Regions from separate parts of the Homo sapiens genome. Here region 1 is linked to region 2. Evidence: fine-mapped expression QTL. Tissue or cell type: lung. Region 2 holds a variant in brackets; the other region holds the start of a gene. All regions are shown on one strand. Distances are between the middles of the regions.

Region 1 (10,461 bases), 43 kb after region 2:
GTGAGATGCGGCCAGCGTTTGGAACAAAAGCGTATCTCATTGTGTTGCTTCCCTCAGCACCGAGGAGAAAGGAGAGAAACTTGGGGATCATCAGACCAGCCACGCCAGAGCTCATAGCAGTCTTACTCAGTCCCACAAGCCCACAGGACGTCAGCACAAGAACCTGTTCTTAAAACCATCCAATCTCACCTCTCGATTAACAGATGTGGAGACTCAGGCCCAGAGAGGAAAAGTGACTCATTCAAGGTCGCACAGATTAGTGGCAATGCCTAGACTTGAACTGAGATGAGCAGAGTCTGGTGCACTGCCACGTCCCACCCTCCTCCTCCACAGCAGGTGCAGGGAGGGTCCATTCTTCTGGTCACTGCAGCATAGTACAGTTTTCTGTGTCAGTGCCCTTCCTCTTAGAAAGAAACACCTCTGGGCTGGGGTAGCTAGCTCCCACTTTTAGCCATGTAAAATTTCTCTCTGGGCATTTTAGGTAGGAGTGTTGTCTATATTCTTAAGTGTCCGAGTCTACTTTGGCTACAGAGATGAATTAGGAAAAATTAGACTCTGCTTTGTATGTATGCAGAGTTCTCCGTGCACGATAAAGTGTAAATGAAAAGCAGCAAATGCTATTAGCAGGAGGGCAAGCCAAAACTGCTAGGCCCTTTTTAAATGTCCTCAAGTCATCCTCAAACCTACCCATGTAATTATCTTCTAAGTTCATTCTCAAAAATGAGATTCTACATTTCAGGGTTTATTTACAGCCAGATGATCATAATACTCCCCTGCTCAAAAAGCTTCGGTGACCCCTATTCCTTGAAATTAAAGTCACAGATTCCTATCTCATCATTCAAGGCCACCTGTGATCTGGTCAAAATCTATTTCTAGTAGTATTGCCCACTGTTTCCTTTCCAAGCACTCAACTCAGTCTACCTCCAGCTGATTAGATTTCCTAGAAATAACTACTCCTCCTTCTAAACCCCATGAACAAATGTTTTCTGAAAAGGTATTTGGAGGAAAGAGACTTTATTCCAGTGGACAAAACTGGGTGTTAGGTTTTGAAGGGAAGGCGAGGGTTAAAGAAAGACATACGTAAGAGGGTGGCTTAATAGCAAATGCAGGCTTTATGTCCAGCATAAAACCTACAGAAGTCAGGAACCAGCATAATGCCAGAGCCCACTGCTGCTTACAGGCTGGGGCAATTTATGGGCCAAAGGGGTCCGGGCAGTATGGCTTGCTGCCTGGCAGGATATTGATAAGATGTTCCCGTGATGAGATGGTTCTGGCCCTTGTTCCAGTGGGATTTCGTTGTGGTGTTCCTCGGATCTTTGTCCAGCATGATATGATAGAGATGTGTCTTTGGTTAGGCCTTTGTCTGCCTTGTGGTCAGGTGGTTAGGCAGGACGTTTCTCACACCCGAACCCCTGTTTCACTTTGACTAAGGTCTGCAAAATAGCAGGGAGAGCTTATGACATGGTGCAGTTTGGACTAACACTGAGAGACCAGAGTTCAGTGTAAAATGAATGTGCGTTCAGAGAACAGAGAGGAGTCGGGCTTTATAGCAAAATTTGCTGCCCAGGTTCCCCATCAGGTTCATTTGCATATGAACCCAGATTCATTTGCATTTGCTTTCCTCTGATGCAGCTGAGCCCTGATTAACCGAGCAGATGAGCTCTGATTGATTGGTTTCCAAGCCCTAAACTGGGAGTCTCTGTCAGACTGTGGCTGGCTGGTGGTGGGAGGGGCCCAGCAGCAGTTTGTCCTGGGAGCAACAGCAGGCGCTGGTTTGGCTTGATTGTGAAAAGAGGGGTCCTGTGATGCTCTTATATCTTTCTGAGAACACAGAGTATGTGATCGCTCCCACACCCGGCTGTAGCCACTGGGTTTCTGTTTTAAATATGAGTACCTCAGTGAGTCATAGGGAGTCCATTTGGTCTGTGGGCTGTGAACATACTTTAAACAATCCCAATCCTGTTCTCTCTTGACAAATCACTTTCTTTACCCAAATACAGATACTGGAGTACGTGTCTTTCCTCCCCTTAAGGACAGTACCTCTTGGGCTTACTTTAGTTAGCCCCACCTAGGAGAGAGCCTGGCACATGTTAGGTCTTAATAAACACTGAGCAAATGAATGACTGAGTTGTATGAGACATTTCATTTACCCTCCCCGGCTCCATGCCTGGGAGGAATGAGCTACCTCTGAAGATGGGTAACGTCTTGAGATTTTCACAAAAGAATATAAAGCTAGCAAGTCAAAGACAGTGTGATACTGCTTTAATTTTAGTTTAGTTTTTTTTTTTTTTTTTTCCTGAAACACAGCACATTAGGAGTTGAGATGATGGTATTGACTGTCCTTGTGGTTTGTGTGCAATTTTTAACCAGGATTCATGGCTGGGGAAACAAAAGCACTTCTTTGCTTGCATAACTTTTTTCCCTTCCTTTATTACTTCAAAGAGGCAAGATGTGGTTTGCATTCATTTCACTGCTAATATTGCTCTCAAAGATCGCTAAAGATCTCTTCTCCCCTTACACATTCCACTCATTTATAACCCAGATCCTCAGTGTGGCTAATGGAGGGTCCCTCAGCCCTGTAACTTCTGTGCATGAAGCAGTAGGTAGTGGGTCCAGTTATGTTAAACATTAGGTAATATCAGTATCTTTTAACCTTACTATGAGAATCTTAAAGATGGAAGCATTAGCCTCTGCTTATGATTGCTGCAGGCAAGAATCTGCACCAACCCTCCCAAGAGTATAAAGATCATCACCGTCACCGTCACCATTGTAAGGTCACAGCTCTTCACAGTTCACTTATCTTTTTCCTAGTTATTCTCCCTCCTAATCATTGCCAAAGTCTTGGGAGATAGGTGTGAATCCTTCTAGGACGCAGCTGAAAAAGTTAAATGTCTTGTCCTAGAGCACACAGCTCAGCAGCACCAAGAATGAAATGTTAAATCTGGTGTTTTTCCCTCTCTGCTGTAGTGAAGCTCTGCTAGAGATTTACCGAAGTCCTTGATATTTTAACCTAGCTATCAACTTCAGCCCAGAGAAGGTCTTCCAAAAGTAGATTCCAAAAGTATATTCATCCATCAACCATAACCTTAAATCTGAAGCCAGGAACTAAAAAGAAATTCTCAAGGTAACACAATTGTCATGAAGTCTCACTCCCAGGGCCAATTATAATCTGGATTTTTGTCTTCATCCTTCCAGGTGTCTCTGATCCCACTGTAAGCAAACCCTGAGTCCTAGGGCCTTTCTTCCACTTATTTCACTCTTTCTGTACACATTTTCCAGTACCTCCACCACTCACCACCCTCCAAAAAGAACTGATCCCTAAGCTTGTGCAGTGATTAACGATTTTCATGTCTTTTCTATTTGCCTGCAGTTATGCTACAAGATCTCTTGGCAAAGGACTAGCCAGGCATGCCTAATATATACATTCGTGTGATTTAACAAACTGGTTTCTACCACTTTCGGCCTGAAGTGACAGTGTTTTTTAACGTTGGTTGCAGGCAGGGGACTGTTGCCCCCTGCCAAGCACTTCAGCTTCCTTGCCCGGCCTCTCCTTGGCTTCTGTCTGTCCCCACCAGCAGCTCTTCATGGGACCCATCCTGACCCTCCAAGAAAGCAGAAAAGGAGGTTCCTGATGCAAAACCTAAAGAGCTTTCATCTGAGGAAGGTGAATCCTTTTTAAACTATGAGGCCTGGAGAGACGTTAAAATGAGAGCAATCACACCCTACTCCCCGCTTTGAGCTATGTATTCATCTCTTAAAACTGCTTGCTATTGCCACAAGTAGCTATGAATTAATTTTAATTTAGGATTATTATAGTGTCTCACCAGAAGCATAAACCACATCCTATAACTTAACAATAACCAATTGCTCATCAATTTTGTTTCTGTAATCCAAAGAGAGTTCCTGATCAACAACTTTGTACCAGCCCACTCTCTCGGTCCCAGTCTTTTGTTTTTAAAAACCTGCTTGGAACAAAGGCTCTAGGAAGCTCACAGCCAAGAGTACTTGGGTCTGAGTCTTCCAGGCAGCTGTCCTCACTTTGGCTCAAGTAAACTCTTTAAATTATGCTTTGCGTCTCAGCCTCTGCCTTTTGGGTCAACACTGAGGGGAGTAAATGAATGGCACCTGCTCCTTCTCTGTCTGAAGCTTGGACTTCTCCTGAGAGGACTTCCTGCTCCAAGATAGGAGGGAGTCTCACTCAGAAGAGGAAGGAGCTCCTGTCTGCTGAGGACACGGTTCCATCCAATGAGGTCAGCAGGGCTATCAGCAGCTTCCGTTAATTCCGTTGGGGCAGGCGTGTGGCAAGCAGCAGTTATTTGAGCTGAGGATGCTGGGATGGATTTTCACATGAGCAGTTGGCCCTTAGATCATGAGACCAGCCTAAGTGCCCAAGGAAATGGAACAGCAGGGAGGGGGAGGGACATCACACCCACTATCAAAACTTCTTGTTAGTCTCTGGCTTCCACATCCTTCCCCAAAACTTCAGCCCAATTCACAGCCGCATTTTTCCATCTCTTTGCCATTCCTCCATGGGAGAGCTTTCTGTTGGTACAGGAATAGCTGAGAAGTGGGAAAGATCAAGGGTAGTAAGAGCTGCCCCCGATAATCTACAGAAAGCTTTGCTGGAATGAGGTTGTGCATCTCTGAACCTGAGCTAGATTTGTTGGGTCAGGGACCATACTTATTTACTGGCCCAAGAATTAGAAGAGGAGGTGTCTAAGAAATGCTTGTTGAATGAATAAATAAACAGCCGAGTGAGTGTTTATATGAGCCTGAAAACTGCCTGCACCAGCACAAAAGTAAAGCCCCAACACCCTCAGGTCACACCTACTGGAAAAATATATGTCAGCCCCAGAAAAATGTGGGCAACATGAGGCAACTCCGGAGCAACACAGGAAACTGCCCTCCTCTTCTGGCCCCTCTTCCACTGTGATGCTCAAAGTCTGTGATGACCAAGTCTGGTCATCTAATCAGCAGGATATAAGAGGGTCATTCTTCACTGCGGCCATTCCAGTTTCCTGGAAACTTGGCTTTCTCCTGACCGTTTCCCCAGGAGCACGGTGGTGACAAGCTTGAGCTCTGACATCAGAAAGTCCCCAGTTTGAAACCTCTAGCTTCTTACTCGCTAGCTATGAGACTTTGGGCAAATTAATCTCTAAACCTCAATTTCTCAATCTGTAAAATGTTCAAGGTCAAGCAACTCACTTTTCCACATTGTAATTGATGAAACTAAAATTCAGACTCAGATCTGCCTCACTCCACAGTCTGTGCTTTTTCCTTCCCACTCATCTTTTTCTCTTTCTATTAAAAATTTCATAACACATTTGAGATTCTGTCTCAACTCATATCACTGAAATCATCTGTCACGTCTGATGATCATATAGAAGCCAGACTAAGATTCAGCCACAAATGTTATGCCTAAACATTTCTTATTATTTCTTTTTAATGTTTCTCATGTATACAATCAAACTCGCACCCTAGTATTATTGGCAGGCTAATATATGCCCATGAGACATGTAGCTTAAATCTCTATGGGATAGGATAAGTATTCTCCCTTTGTTTGTGATTTGAAAGCTTTCCATGGATGCTAAAGCGATTTGTTAAAATACCTTCACCTGTAAGTGTTTTTCCTCTCTTAAAAGCCTAATTCATCTCTGAGTTTGTTTACTAAAATAATCTAATTTGCTCATTTTCTCTAGCCATTCCAAGCTAAATCCCAGGAAGTACTAAAGAAGCAATGCACAGACACAGTATCATACAATTTGAGACACAGTATTATAAAATTGATGTGAACTTCTAGGCACAGTGTGCTCACAGTCTGTCTGGAAATAACTTTGTAGCAAGCATAGTTCCAGTCTAGCTGCCTGGCAGCCTGGCAGGATATTATTATTACTGATACTAATTTACTTTTTAATGTAAGTCTACCCAGAATATATTAAAGAAGTTTCAAGAAATCAGGATCATGGATTATAACCTGACGTAGTGCTAAGGAACCATCAGTTCCATGTAAGCATTTGGTTAGCAAGTCTTTTTCAAAGGCCATGCTTGAGAAACAGTTTTGCTCTCCCAAACAATGTGTTGTAGTTTTTTTTAGCATACTACTGTGCAGATAAATAAATGAGATATTAATGCCATTGCAAGTTCTGGCTTTGTGTAGAGTTTTCTAGTGAAGCCTGTTTAGGATCCTGGATTTGTCCAAGCTGTTCTGATTATCCCATCATTTTTAACATGGATAATCTACAATCTTTCATCTATTACATAAATTGAATTCTGGCACAAGTTCAACTGCTCTTCATTGAAACTGAGAAAAATTTTAGGATCACTTTGCTGGAATCCAAAGAAGATGTTAAATACTACCAAAAAAAAAAAAAGGCTGAAAACTGGTTTCCAAGAATCTCTGGGGCATCCTTAAGAACTCCCCTTGCATGTTCATTAGACGGCCCTTTACCCAATGTATCTCTAATAGTCTGCTGAAAATACTCAAAGGCAAGTAATTTTCATGTAATCAACTAAACAAAATGTTTAACAAATATGGCAAATATTAATATTTTTAACTGTTTATGTAAAGTGCAAGAGAGTTATTGATTAGGAGAGTAGCTCTGAAGCCGAACAGCCTAGGTCTAAATCCCGGTTCTTTCATCAACAAGCTCCATTACTGTTGATAAGTTATTTGAATTATCGGTGTCTTAGTATCTTTCCTTATAGAGGTGATGATTGCTCCTACCTAATAGCACTGTAGCAATCATATATGCAGAGCTTATCACACTAATTGACATTCAAAAATATTAGCTCTTAAAAAATTATTATTAGAAATTTGAGAAAAAGAATCACACTAAAAAAGGATAAAAGGCATTGAAAATAATTCCCCCAAAAGAAAATAAAAATTTCTCAAATCATATAGGACTTATTTTGTAACATTAAGAAGATTCCAATTAATTCAAATTAAATGGATGATGCCTTATCTTCACAATGACATTCCAATAGCTTGTTTTCTTATTTTAATGAAAATATGTAATGATGGTGAAGATTCAGTGAGACAGGCACTTCCATACTAGCTGCTGGAATTCTACGTTGACACAACATATTTGGTGAGCAATATGGCAATCAGAAGACTAAAAGAATGTTGCATATTTTGTCTTGGTAATTCCTCTTCTGGAAATCTTTCTTAAGTGAACAATTCCTAATTCAAAAGCTACTTACTATATAGTTATACACAAAGACATATGCTACAAAATTATTAATTACTAGGAAAACAAAATGAAATAATCTATATGTTATATAATAAAAGCATAACTAAATAAATTTCGTGTAGTCACATAAAGATATGTTTATGCAGCAGAAAATTGGAATTTATGAAAAGATTGGCATAATATAGAGACAAGTTTTCTTAGTTATCATGAACAGAAAAATATGATGGCAGTCATGAAAAATATTCATTAAAAATTAGAGGAAAATAAATATGTCTATCTATCTAGCTAGCTAGCTAATTTTGAGATTCTGTTTTATAACTGAAGTTTAGACTCTGTGACCCTCCCCTAAAAGTCTGTTCATCTCTTTTTTAGTTAAGACTGTTGACTGTTTTCCACAACAACCAGTAGACATCAGTGACCATTAACCACTTTTCTCATGCATTCTATTTTCCTTATTTCCAGAATACATTCCCTTAAGCTAAATACAACTTCTCCCTCTACATCTGTTTTCCATGAGCATATCTGGATTTACTGGTATATCTATCACTTCCATGTCCTTTTCAGGATTGGTGAACCATGTCATCCATTCCTGCTCCAGGCAGAAGCTTGTTCTCAGTCCTTGGTTTTGAGCTTGTGTATCTGTCTCTCTCTTTAATTTTTATTTTAGGTTCAGGGGCACAAGTGCATGTAGGTTAGATGGGTAAACTCATGTCACATGGGTTTGTTGTACATATTATTTTGTCTTCCAGGCACTAAACCTACTACCCAATAGTTATTCTTCCTGGTCCTCTCTATCCTTCGACCTTCTACTCTCAAGTGGGCCTCAATGTCTGTTATTCCCCTTATTGTCTCCGTGTGTTCTCATTATTTAGCTCCCACTTATAAATGTGAACATTCGGTATTTGGCTTTCTTTTCCTTTGTAAGTTTGCTAAGGATAATGGCCTCCAGCTCTATCCATGTCCCTGCAAAGGACATGATCTAGTTCTTTTATGTGACTGCAGAGTAGTCCATGGTGCACATGTACCACATTTTTTTTTAAATCCAGTCTGCCGTGGATGGACATTTAGGTTGATTCCATGTCTTTGCTATTGTGAATGGTGCTGCAATGAACATGTGTGTATGTATTTCTTTATGGTAGAACAATAAATCACAATGTTAATGGCTGTTGGTAGAATTAATTTTACGTAATTTCTAATCTTTTTCTTTATATTTTTCAAATATTCTACAATGAGAATACATTGCTTCTCTAATAATATTAATGCAAGCATATAAATAATTTAAGTTCCCTGGTTAATCTCACTTATTATCTCTAAGCTTTGTGTCTCCTTGTGAAGGCAAATCTCCTGAATAAATGCTTACTTAGCACGCGCATCCACTTGGAATCCATCATCTGAAATAGTTACTGTTCATGGTGCATTGACTTTAACTTCAAACTTGGGCAACACTGGAAACAAAGAGAAATATACTTCAGCCCCCACAATCACTGGTGAGCAAAATTTATTGCAATCATGTAGCTTAAGGTGCTTCCCAGCACCAGCTTTCCCTGTATGTCCATCTGGATAGATCATGTTCTGTTGCCCCAGATTCCATGTGGCACCAGTCTACATGATGGTGTCTCACTAGTCATTAACTCTTCCTTTTTCTTTTCTCTGTCCTCAGAATTTCAAGTTTTTTCCTTTGTAATCTCTTAGATCTCTCCTGGCAGATTGGGCTCTAGAAAATGTATATTTCCTAGGGGAAAAAAAACGACAGAAATTAGAATAACGATACTGGGGGAGGAGTGAGGAGGAGGAAAATGCTGATGATGAAGCTGACCAGGCCAAGGAAGGGAGATGAGAAAAACCAGATCAAGCTTCACCTACTCCTGCCTACGTCTAACACCAAAGGTGTTTTGTTCCATGCTTTGAATCCTTTATCTACACAGGACAACTACAAATAGCAATTGGTTACCCTACCCTTGATAGTAAATTGGTGTGTCAGTGTCTTTCCTGATTTTCTTTTCACGACAATTGAGTAACCTCCAAACACTGTTTCTGAAATCAGTGGGAATGAGAGGAATCATACAGTATGGACTGTTTTGTGACTGGCTTCCTTGTTTCCACATTATGTCTGTGAAATTCATCCCTCTTGTGGCAGACAGGAGGAGCTCACTGCCTTTCACTGTCTTGTAATCTTCCATGGCCGGAGCACCCCACACTGTATCCATTCTATTCCTTCCACTTTTTGATGATGATGAATGAACATTCATCATCTCTGAATGTGTTTGTATATGACTTTTGGTGAACATAAATGCTCATTTCAGTTTGGTAGATACCTAAGAAATTGAATTGCTAGGTCATGGTTTTTTCTTACATGTAGCTTTAGCAGATACAGAAAGTTTCTTATAGTTGTGGTTCAAGTTACACGCCCACCAAGTGCAGACAAAAGCACTAGTAGCTCCACACTCTTGCCAACACGTGGTATTGTTAGTTCTTTTCATTCTAGTGCATCTGGGGAATGCAGTGCTATATAACCTGCATTTTCTTTCCTTTTTTTCTTTCTTTTTTTTTTTTTTGTTGTTGTTGTTGTTGAGACGTGGTTTTACTCTGTTGCTAAGGCTGGAGTACAATGGTGTGATCATAGCTCGCTGCAGCCTCCACCTCATGGGCTCAAGGAATTGTCCCTCCTTAGCTTCTGGAGTAGCTGGGACCACAGGCATGCACACCATGGTCAGCTTAATTTGTATTTTCTTGATAGTTAATGAAGTTGAACAGGTTTTCATATACTTATTGGCTGTGTGAATGGCCTCTTTTGTGAAATACTTATTTGACCCATTTATAAAGATTTTTATTGTCATTTGTTATTAATCTGTGGGGTTTCTTTTTCTTTTCTTTTTTTTTTTTTTGAGACGGAATCTCACTCTGTAGCCCAGGCTGGAGTGCAGTGGCTCAATCTTGGCTCGCTGCAAGCTCCGCCTCCCGGGTTCGCGCCATTCTCCTGCCTAAGCCTCCCGAGTAGCTGGGACTACAGGCACCCGCCACCACGCCTGGCTAATTTTTTGTATTTTTAGTAGACGGGGTTTCACCGTGTTAGCCAGGATGGTGTCGATCTCCTGACCTCCTGATCTGCCCACCTCGGCCTCCCAAAGTGCTGGGATTACAGGCGTGAGCACAAGAAATTCCCACAAGAAATCTGTGGGATTTCTTGATATATTCTAGATAAGATTTGCTTTGAAAGACATATATTGTAATAATCTTCTGCTCTGTGGCATGTCTTTTCACTCACATAAAG
Region 2 (10,461 bases):
CCATTATCACAACAAAGGTGAATAAGACACTATGCAATAGCCAGGGAAACAGCCTCAAAAACAGTTAAACTCTAATCCAGCCATGAGTACAATGCTAAGGAGGGACAAATTCCCTTCTAGGGCTAGGGAAGTCAGGAAAAAACCTCTCAGCAGAATGTGTGCCTCTCTACCAGGCCCAGGGAGAAGGTGCAGAGACAGCATTCCAGGTGGGGAGCAGTGGCTCACACCTATAATCCTAGAAGTTTGGGGGGCCATGGTGGAAGAATCAAGACCAGCCTGGTCAACATAGACTCCTGTCTCTACCAACAAATATATATATTTTAAATTAGCTGGGTGTGGTGGTGCAGGTCTGTAGTCCCAGCTGCTAGGGAAGGATGAGGTGAGAGGATCATCTGAGCTCCAGGAGGTCAGTGGAGGCTGCAGTGAGCCATGATCATGTCACTGTACTCCAGCCTGGGCAACACAGTGAGACCCTGTCTCAGAAAAACAAAACAAAACGAAACGAGAGAGCATCCCAGGTAAAAGGAACAGCTTGAACAAAGGTACGTAGTGAAACGGCAAGTGGTCTTGAGTGGTGGGGACACAGTCATCCTTGAGGAAGTACCAGGAAAAAGAATGATAAAGAGAGGCCAGTTTGTGAAAAACACCCAAAACCAAGGCTAGGAGTCTGGTCTTGAACCAGGAATGAAATCCTTAGACCTGTGCTGTCCAGTGTGGTAGCCACCAGGTACATGCAGCCACTCAGCACTGGAAATGTGGCTAGTCTAAATTGAGATGTGCTGTCAGTGTAAATACACACCGAATTTCAGACTTAGGAAAAAAGAACATAGACTATCTCATTAAAATCTATATTGATTACATGCTAAAATGACCATAATTTGGATACATTGGAGTAAATGAAATATATTGCTAATTTCTTCTGTTTCTTTTTTTTTTCAACTGAGTCTTGCTCTGTTTCCCAGGCTGGAGTGCAGTGGCACAATCTTGGCTCACTGCAACCTCCACCTCTGGGGTTTGAGCAATTCTTCTGCCTCGCCTCCTGAGTAGCTGGGATTACAGGCACCTGCCACCATGCCCAGCTAATTTTTGTACTTTTAGTAGAGACGGGGTTTCACCATGTTGGCCAGGCTGGTCTCAAACTCCTGACCTCAGGTGATCTGCCCGCCTTGGCCTCCCAAGGTGCTGGGATTACAGGCATGAGCCACCACGCCCAGCCTCTCCTATTTCTTTCTATGTTAAAATCACATATGTGATTTCCATATTTTTCTTTTGTTTTCTTTTTGCCACACTCAGTGTCCTGTGATTCCAAAGAAATGAATCCCAGTTCTTTTCAGGCAGGAGCTATCCTAGAATGGATTCTGGCGTAAGCATCAAAATCATTCATAACATTATCATTTTATGGCCCCTTCGTTCTGTATCTGGTAGCTCTTAAACTATTATCATGAAGATAATCATTATTGTGCCTCTCTCAGCAGATGGTATTTCCTTATGCTACAATGGTACTACAAATATTAGCTCATAATACCCATGTATGTTAGAACCATTCTAACACCTTCTCAAGAACTATTCCATTTAACTCTTAATCACAGTGAATTTATTATTATCTCCTATGTTACATAAGGAAATGAAGTTGGAAAGACCACATGGCATTTTTTTTCAACATTGAAACCCTACTTGAGATCAAGCCCAAACTTGAACCTATGTTGTCTGACTATAGAACTTCTGTTATTTATCAGTATGTTTTATTATTTTTATACATTAAAATTGAAGATCTTGGAGTTTAAAAATTTTTTTAGTACTACCGATTGTAAGACCCCTTTTTATGATACTTTGTCTTTATGTAAACCTAAACTATACTTTTTATATATATATATATATATATATATATATATATAGACAGAAAAACAGAGAGTCTTACACTAACCACCCCCCCCCCGTGTGGTCAACATTTTTGTTACTTTAAGATACACCACCCCAATTAACTTCACAACAAACTTTGGAGTCATGTAATACTATCTATTTTTAGGAATGAGAAAATCCAGGCACAAAGGTTAATTGGCAATTATCTTTTGCAAAGTCTGTGGTGCTCATCTGAAAAGATGACGATCACTTCTTATTTAGTGGAAAGACAATAAATAGTTGATAAGTAATAGTCTTCCATCAGGGAGTTTTGTAATGAGAAACCCTGACTCCTCAGTTCCCCAGTGGATGACTGCAGTTCACTCTCGGTCTTTGCTATTGTGTTACCTGCTTATCCATTTTGTTACCTTTTAATGCATTACATAAATGCATAAATATTCTTTAATAATGGTGCTTTCCTCACATCTATGCCATCCGTGTTCATCAAGATCTTCTTTCAGTTTCTTTGACAACTAAAACTGTACATATGTATTGTGTATGGCGTAATATTTCTACTGCACAGCATTGCTTTACACAATGTGGTAAAAACTATGGACTCTCCCAGGAAAATGCACACACACCGTACCCCTGTCTCATAAGGCAGTTTATAGTTTCAAAGTGCATGGAGCCCGTCCTGCACACCATTCTCCCACACCCCGCTCCAGCGCCTCTCCCTGAGTTACAGACCTCACTGTGGGCCCCCGGGGAACCAGCGCAGAGGTTTAAGCGGTGTGGGGTCAACTCCAAGGGTCAGGAGTTGGCAACTGGTTGGTTCCCCATATAATTGATGCCCCCGACACAGCATCTCCCCGAACCAATAATAGAAGCTTCTGACTCCTTCGCCCACCCTTCTGACTTCTTCTTGCTTCTCCCATGGAAGCAGGTGTGGGAACCGCTGAGCGGAACACCCTCCCCCAGCGGGAAATCCGGGACACGCAGGAGCCTCAGTGAATCCGACCATTGTCTCATCTCACCAGGCAGGTGCCTCCTCCATCCTATGTGCGATCAACTTTATTACTACAATTATTAATATAAAGCTGTTGTAACCAAGTGGGTAATAGAGGAACGCCACACTTTGAGACTAATTCAGGAGTTCTTTATTAGCCAGCGATCGAGAGACGGCTAGCGCTCAAAATTCTCTCAGCCCTGAAGAAGGGGCTAGATTTTCTTTTATACTTTGGTTTAGAGAGGGGAAGGGGAGCCTAGCTATAGCAATCTTATAGAAGTAAAACAGGCAAAAAAAAGTTAGACAAATGGTTACAGGAAAACAAATGGTTCCAGGTGCAGGGGCTTTAAATCCATCACAAGGTGATGGGTGCAAGGGCTTTGGGTGCTATCTACTGGATACAAATGCAGGGGCTTAGGATACTATCACCCGAGCGAATTCCTGGGAACTGCGGACATAACTTGCCACAGGACCTTATCAGTTAATTGCACTCTGATGTGCTGGGAGTCAGCTTGCACAAGTTAAGTCCTTGAGGAATTGGGTGGGCAAGGAGCTGCAAGTGAAGGAGCCAAAATGGAGTTTGTCTGGCTCTCTCAGCTAAGGGAGACTCAATTCAGGTTAAAACAAGGTAGCATATCATATTCCCCACTTGTTACAAGAGGGTTATATTGGACTTTAAGATATATAAGTTTGACAGAAGCTATGTGTTGCTTTATAAAGTTAAGAAACCAGTTTTAACTTACGAGGTTTGAAGACTAAACAAGAGGAGGAGAAAGGGGTCCCGCCAATCCAGTAATTAGAGTAGTTAGTCATGGATTACAGTTAAACATGCTTTGGTACTAGGGGGTGTTATGAATTTGAGCAGGAATGCTGTCCACTTTCAGAGCCGTCAGTGTGGTGAGGATGACAGTATGAGGTCTTTTCCAGGCAGGAGTGAGTCCTTTTTTTTTTTCTTTTGGAACTTTTTAACATACACCAGGTCACCCGGCTGGAAAGAGTGGCAGAGCCCCGTCTGGTCAGGAACTGGGTTGGGATGAGCTCCCCGGACAAGCGGCTGGATGATGTCTTGTACCTGTTGGAGAGACTGCAGGTACTGTAATAAATTAGCTTGTGAGATTTCTGCTAAATGGGTATCCCTTAGCTTAGGCAAGATAGGCGGAGCCCTCCTATACATGATTTCAAAAGGTGAAAACCTAGCCCGGTAAGGAGTGCATCTCACTCTAAGAGGGGCTAAAGGAAGGAGTCTCACCTAATTTTCACCGGTCTCTAAGATCAATTTTGTAAGAGTATTTTTTAGGGTGTGGTTCATGCGTTCTACCTGCCCAGAGCTCTGGGATCGAGAGGCACAATGGAGCTTCCATTGAATGTTTAGTGCCTTACTGACTGACTGAGCTATGGACGAGGTGAAGGCCGGTCCATTATCAGACCCTATGGCAGCAGGCAGCCCATGTCGAGGGATGATTTCATTGAGTGAAAACCTAACTACCGTGGTGGCAGTCTGGCAGTCTCGTTCTTGGTGGCAAATGCCTCAGTCTATCCAGAAAAGGTGTCTAGTAGTACCAGAAGGTATTTGTACTCTGCCTGGTGTGGTTTTATTTCTGTAAAGCCAATTTCCTACCTTCTCCTGGCGAGCCTCCCCGGAGGCGGTGGCCTGAGCTGGGTTTAGGACCTTGCTTGGCGTTCACCTGGGCACAAGCTGCTTGGTTCGCTAAGTCCTGAAGGTGGGGGATCTTGAAACGGCTCCTTAGAAGCTGGGCCAGGTTTCCTCCTTCTAAATGGGTGGTAGAATGCAGACGACTGATTAAAGTTTCCCCGAGAGCTTGGGGTATGAAGATTCCGGAATCAGGAAGAATCCACCAATCTTCCTGATTTTTACTGGCCTGAAGATCCAAAGCCTATTTTTCCTCCTCTGGGGAGTATTCTGGGTGATCTGGTAAGTCAGGTTGCGGAAAGGACACTGCAGGCAGCAGAGTCAGAGGCGTGACTGGGAGTTGAGCTGCCTCCCAGGCTGCAGAGTCTGCTCTTTGGTTACCACAGGCAATGGCCATGTCTTCTTTTTGATGTCATTTGCAGTGAATTACAGCCAGCTGTTGAGGGAGCCAAACAGCTTCAAGCAGGGCCAAAATTTCTTCTTTGTTCTTGATAGCCTTTCCTGCTGAGATGAGTAGCCCATGCTCTTGGTAGATGGCTCCATGTACATGCACAGTAGCAAAAGCATACCTGCTGTCAGTGTGAATTTTAATACGTTCGTCGTTACCCTATCGGAGGGCCTGAGAGAGGGCAATCAACTCAGCCCTCTGTGCCGAGGTACCTGCTGGCAGTGCTTGGGCCCACAGTATATTCGTCTCCGTAGTGATGGCAGCACCAGCCTTTCGAACTCCCTGCTCAAGGAAGCTGCTACTGTCTGTAAACACAGTGGCATCCGCCTCCTTTAAAGGCACGTCTTGGAGATCAGGTCGGCCAGTTTCCGTAGTCTCTAACAGTTCTTGGCAGTCATGGACAGGTGTGGTAAGGTCTGGGTCAGGGAGCAAGGTAGCTGGATTTAAGCATCTTGTGGGAGAGAAAGTTAAATGAGGCTGATCTAACAGTAAACTGTGATACTGCAGGATGCGGGCATTTGACATCCATTTGCCAGAGGCACTTCATAGTAAAGTGTCTACAGCATGAGGACCTGTAAGGGTTAAATTTTGGCCCAGAGTCAGTTTATCAGCTTCCTGGACCAGGCTCGCTGTTGCTGCTACTGCTCACAGACAACTTGGCTACTTGGTGGAGGCCACAGGGTCTAGCCTCTTAAGACAAGTAGGCTACCGGACGTCACCATGGCCCTCCACTGTGGCGGTCACCGTGGGCTGCTGGGGGCCAAGAGAGAAGGAGCCCCGGTCTCGTCAGTCATCAGACTCCTCCGCTGCGGGGAGGGTGAGGACTTAATTTTTCTTTTCTGGTTTTTCCTCTGGCTTTAATGGGCATTCTTTTTTCCAGTGTCTAGTCTGCTTGCAATAAGCATGTTGGTTTTTCTCCAGGGGAGCCTGCTCGCCTTTCTTGCCTTTCTGGCGGGGACCTGGGGTTCCCTGGCCATTCCTCTGTGATGGGGGCCTTTCCTTCTTGGCTTCCTGGATGGCCGCCACTAAGATTTTCGCATGTCTTTTGGATGCCTTATCGGCGGCCTTTTCAGTTGCCTGAGCTGCCCGTTTTCGCTTTTCAAACTCTCGATTGTCAAAAACTTTCTGGGCTATCTCTAGAAGTTGGCTAATGTTCATTCCAGCAAATCCTTCCAGTTTTTGTAATTTTCTTTTAATATCAGGGCCTGCCTGAGCCACAAATGCCAAATTAATAGCACAGCTATTCTCGGGAGCCGCCGGGTCAAAAGGGGTGTAACTCCGGTAGGCCTCCTGGAGGCGTTCCAAAAACGCCCC[C/G]GGTGGCTCATCAGGTCCCTGGACAACTTCAAATGTCTTAGACAAATTTATGGGTTTTCGAGCAGCTCCTTTGATACCCGCAAGGAGATACTGGTGAAAATCATCTAAAGCTCTCTTCCTGCCTGAGGAGTTTGGATCCTAATTAGGCCGGGTAGAGGGAAAACCTCCTCTAGGAGGTTATGAGCTTCCTCCTCTGGTCTACCGTCTGATGTAAGGAAATATTTTCTGGCCTCTCTTCGGGTACGTTCCTTCTCTTCAGAGGTGGAAAGGGTTAAAAGGAGCTGTTGACAGTCCTCCCAGGTGGGCCGGTGAGTCCGGAGCATGGACTCCATCAGTGAGGTCAAGACCTGGGGCATTTCAGAAAAGGGGGGGTTATGAGTCTTCCAGTTGTACAGGTCAGAAGTAGAGAAGCGGACATAAACTAAGAATGGGCCTGAGTGCTTATCGCCCGGAGGGACTTGTGCCTCCTCAGCGGGAGGAGGGGGGCTACCTCCTCCTGCCGTGGCCGCGATCAGGAGGCAATAGGTGGAGAGCCCACAGGGGAGGTAGTGCAGGAGACAAGAGAACATTCTGAGGGAGCAGGAGGGTTATAAGGCGGTGGAACTGGGTGAAGGAAACTTTCCTCTTCCTCACAAGGAGGCAATACAGGAGGAGCCGAGCCGGCTGAGGGTCGAGGCGAAAGTGAGGTCTGGCTCAAAAGGACCTTGGAGGTAGAATTATGAATGGCGCATGAGCGGAGCCGTGGAGGAGGGCTCCGGACCAAACTCAGCCATTGATCAATGTAGGGAAACTGATCGGGGTGACCGGGAGTTCCAGCAACAACCCGCCACACAGTCTGAACAATTGCGAGGTTCAGTGACCCTTCTGGGGGCGGGGGTGCACCTGACTCTAAACTTTGGCCATTCTACTCCACAGAGTGTCCAGAGTTTGCCTTTTTTAAGGCGGAGCCTATAATCCTCTGAGAAGCCTAGAGAGAAATTTTGTAACATACATTGGAGAGGGCTCCAAGCTTTATGAGGCCAGGAAGAAGAGTTTCCTATTCTGGAGGCAGTTTAACAAGGTTTGAGCAGAGATATTAAACTTAGCATGGACAGAGAAATTCATGACCTAGGGGGGCTGTAGTATCAGAAGAACAGAAATAACATAACCAGAAGGAGTGGCAAAACAGCTATAACCAACACTTCCTGCCGCATAAGGTTTGTCTTCTTAAGCTTTGAGACTTAGGGAGAGGACACGTGGCAGGTCTGAGGCCCGTGGGACCTATGTGACTTCCCTCTCCCCTTTGACTTATAACCTAAATATCTTTGGTGTCTCCACGACTCAAAGGCAAAGAGTTCAGACTTGGCCCTTTCTTTTAAGGGTTTGAGGAGGGAGAGAAGAGCCAAGTCTTGGAGGCGCTGGACTTGCTGCGACACAGGAAAACGAGATGTGCAGGGCAAGGGATGGCGATGAGGAGGAAAGGGGCCACTTGGATCTTTCCTAAGGTAGGAGAGTAGTCACAGAGGATAAGAGTCCAGCTGGAGTGAAGCAGTACGGGGGTAGTCCTTCTATTTTAGGGTTGCCAGATAAAATACAGTATGCAAAATCAATGTGCATTGGAGAAAATAATTTATTATTAGAGAATACGTAATTTCTTTAGCATAAATATGTCTTGTGCCATTCTTAGTTTGGGACATACTTATGCTAAAAAATTATTTGTTCTTTATCTGGAATTCAGAATTAACTAGGCATTTTATATTTTTATTTGCTAACTCTGGCTACCTTATTCTCTTCTTAATATTCTTCAACTCTCCTAGCTTTGCCCTCCTTCCCTGCCCCCTCTTCTAGGGGAGTCGGATCGAGTTGTAAGGAGAACATGCCCTCCCCTCCTCTTCCCTTCCCTTCCCTCCCCTTCCCTTCCCTTCCTTCCTTTTCCCAGTTTCTATATACTGTATTAGTCACTAATCTAAGTGTTCTAGGTACAACAAACAAAACCACATCAAAATAATCCACAGCTCCCCACTGCTCTCAGAGGCCTACATGCTGGTGGGAGAGATGGCAATTAAACAAGATTAGTAAGTAGGGTAGAGAATATTAGAGAGGAAGATGTCCTGAGAAGAAGAAATAAATCAGGAAGAGGATATGAAGTGCTGGGGAGTGTTGAAATTTTAGATGGGGTGGGGCTTGACAAAGCCTCCCTGAGAAGGTGTCTTCCGAGGAAAGGCTTGCAAGGAAGGGAGGGTAGGTGTTTGGGGGAAGAGCATCTAGACAAAAAAAGACAAGTACAGTGCAAGGTTCTGGAGGCAGGCGCGCACTTGGCTGCTGTGTTTGAAAATGAGGGCGGTGCGGCTGCAGGGGAGAGGACGGGGGGTGGACAAGAACTATGGGGTGGCCAGGTCCTATGGGGCTGTGGGAAGGACCTTGAACTTTACTCTGAGGAGCATGGGAGCCATCGCAGAGTATTGAGCAGAAGAGTGGCATGACCTGGCTGGATTCTTTCATAGAGTCCTTCTGGCTGTGATATTACTCTCTATTAGACAGGCAAGCTCCTTGAGGGCAGGCATTGTGTCCTATTGACCTTTATTATAAGGACATAGCACATCTAGCCTGTAGAAGACTTCAATATGTTTTTTCAAATGAATGAAGAACGACTGAATGAATGCATGAATGAATGCTGTCTCCCGACAGCCAGATCCTGGCTCCTAAGGACTCCGGGAGTCTTCTCACTGTCGAAGGAAAACTCTGGTAGAGGATGCTGCCAGCAGCCAAGTCCCTGGGGCTCTTAGCTGCTGCTGTGGCAGCAACACACATCCAAACCCGTTTTCCTTCTTGCCACATAGCAGGCTGCTTAATGGATCACTGTCACCTGGAGGGAGAATTTCAGGGGAGACCCTGCCCTGGGCTATCTTCTGATTGATGATGTCATCGAGCGTTATTAACAAAATTATAGACAAAGGTGGGAGGAATGGAGGATTTATTAATGGATGGCCTCAAAATTTACAACTATAGATTGTATTTATCGGTTCAAGCCAAGAGGCCCTGTCTACATTTCACCTTGACAACATCTTTGGGTTGAACCTCATGCTTCTCCTTCCTTTACCACAGGTCATCATCTGTCTTCTCCATAGTTCATAGAACAAAAAACAACATGAAGTCCCGCAAGAGCTAGTATTTCTTGTGAGGATTTAATCCTCTGAATAACTATGAAATGGGAAGCATAATTAACTCCTTTTACAGATAATGAAACTGGAGCTTGGAGAGTTAGTACCGTGGCCAAGATCTCTGAGATAGGAAGTGGTGATACCCAGGACAGGAATCTAGATGCTACGATGCCAGAGTCTTGAACCAACCCCTATGCCTGCTGGCCTTGGGATTAACCAGAAAAATGAAAGTCCAGATCCAATTGCTTGAATTTGTTTTTTTAAAAAAACTTTTATTGTAGGCTCAGGGGTGGATGTGCAGGTTTATTTTATAGGTAAACTCATGTCACAGGGGTTTGATGTACAGACTATTTCATTACCCAGGTACTAAGCCTAGGACCAAATAGTTATTTTTTCTGCTCCTTTCCCTCCTCCCACCCTCCACCCTTTGCTAGGCCTCATTGTCTGTTGATCCCCTCTTCATGTCCATGTGTTCTCATCATTTAGCTCCCACTTATGAGAACATGCAGGATTTGGTTTTCTGTTCCTGTCTTAGTTTGCTAAGGATAATGGCCTCCAGCTCCACCCACGTTCCTGCAAAGCACATGATCTCATTCTTTTTCTATGGCTGCATAGTATTTCATGGTGTATTTGCACCACATTTTCTTTATCCAGTCTTCCATTTATGGGCATTTAGGTTGATTCTGTGAATTTGTGTGTTGAAGCATAGCATAGCATAGCATTTCGTATGCCTAAAAATATGGAAATAATAAGTGCGTGGCTCAATGAATTGTCCAAAGCAAGTGCACCCAGTAACCAGTACCCATAAGAAACAGAACATCGTCAGCCCTCTAGGAGTTCCCTCATGTTGTCATCTCAGGCCACTGCGCTGGAGAAGAGTCTCCAGTGATAACAAATATTCTCACTTCTGAAGTGAGAATTTTAATATTTTAATTTTAATATTAGTTTAAAATTTTATTAAATGAAATGGTACAGAATAAACTCTGTCAGGATAATTTATTATATTTGAAAGTCTCACGTGTATTTCTAAAGGCAGCTATAGTTCACTTTCAGTTCTGTATAG

The links. PIP is the estimated chance that this variant, and not a neighbour inherited with it, causes the effect.
Region 1: it holds the start of LINC02367, and the variant in region 2 is fine-mapped to the expression of LINC02367 in lung (GTEx, PIP 0.96).

The regions. Positions count from the first base shown.
Region 1 is chr12:9,363,111-9,373,571 of GRCh38, forward strand. LINC02367 (long intergenic non-protein coding RNA 2367) reads left to right here and starts at 4,354. Exons shown (of 4, transcript NR_120479.1): 1 at 4,354-6,486. LOC101928030 (a long non-coding RNA gene) reads right to left here. Exons shown (of 2, transcript NR_120481.1): 2 at 8,672-8,922. RefSeq lists enhancers at 80-189, 1,379-1,895 and silencers at 1,307-1,366, 1,497-1,606.
Region 2 is chr12:9,320,052-9,330,512 of GRCh38, forward strand. No RefSeq gene overlaps it. Among named protein-coding and RNA genes, the nearest start is that of LINC02367, 42 kb to the right of the region's middle. The variant C/G (reference allele first, on the strand shown) is at 6,259.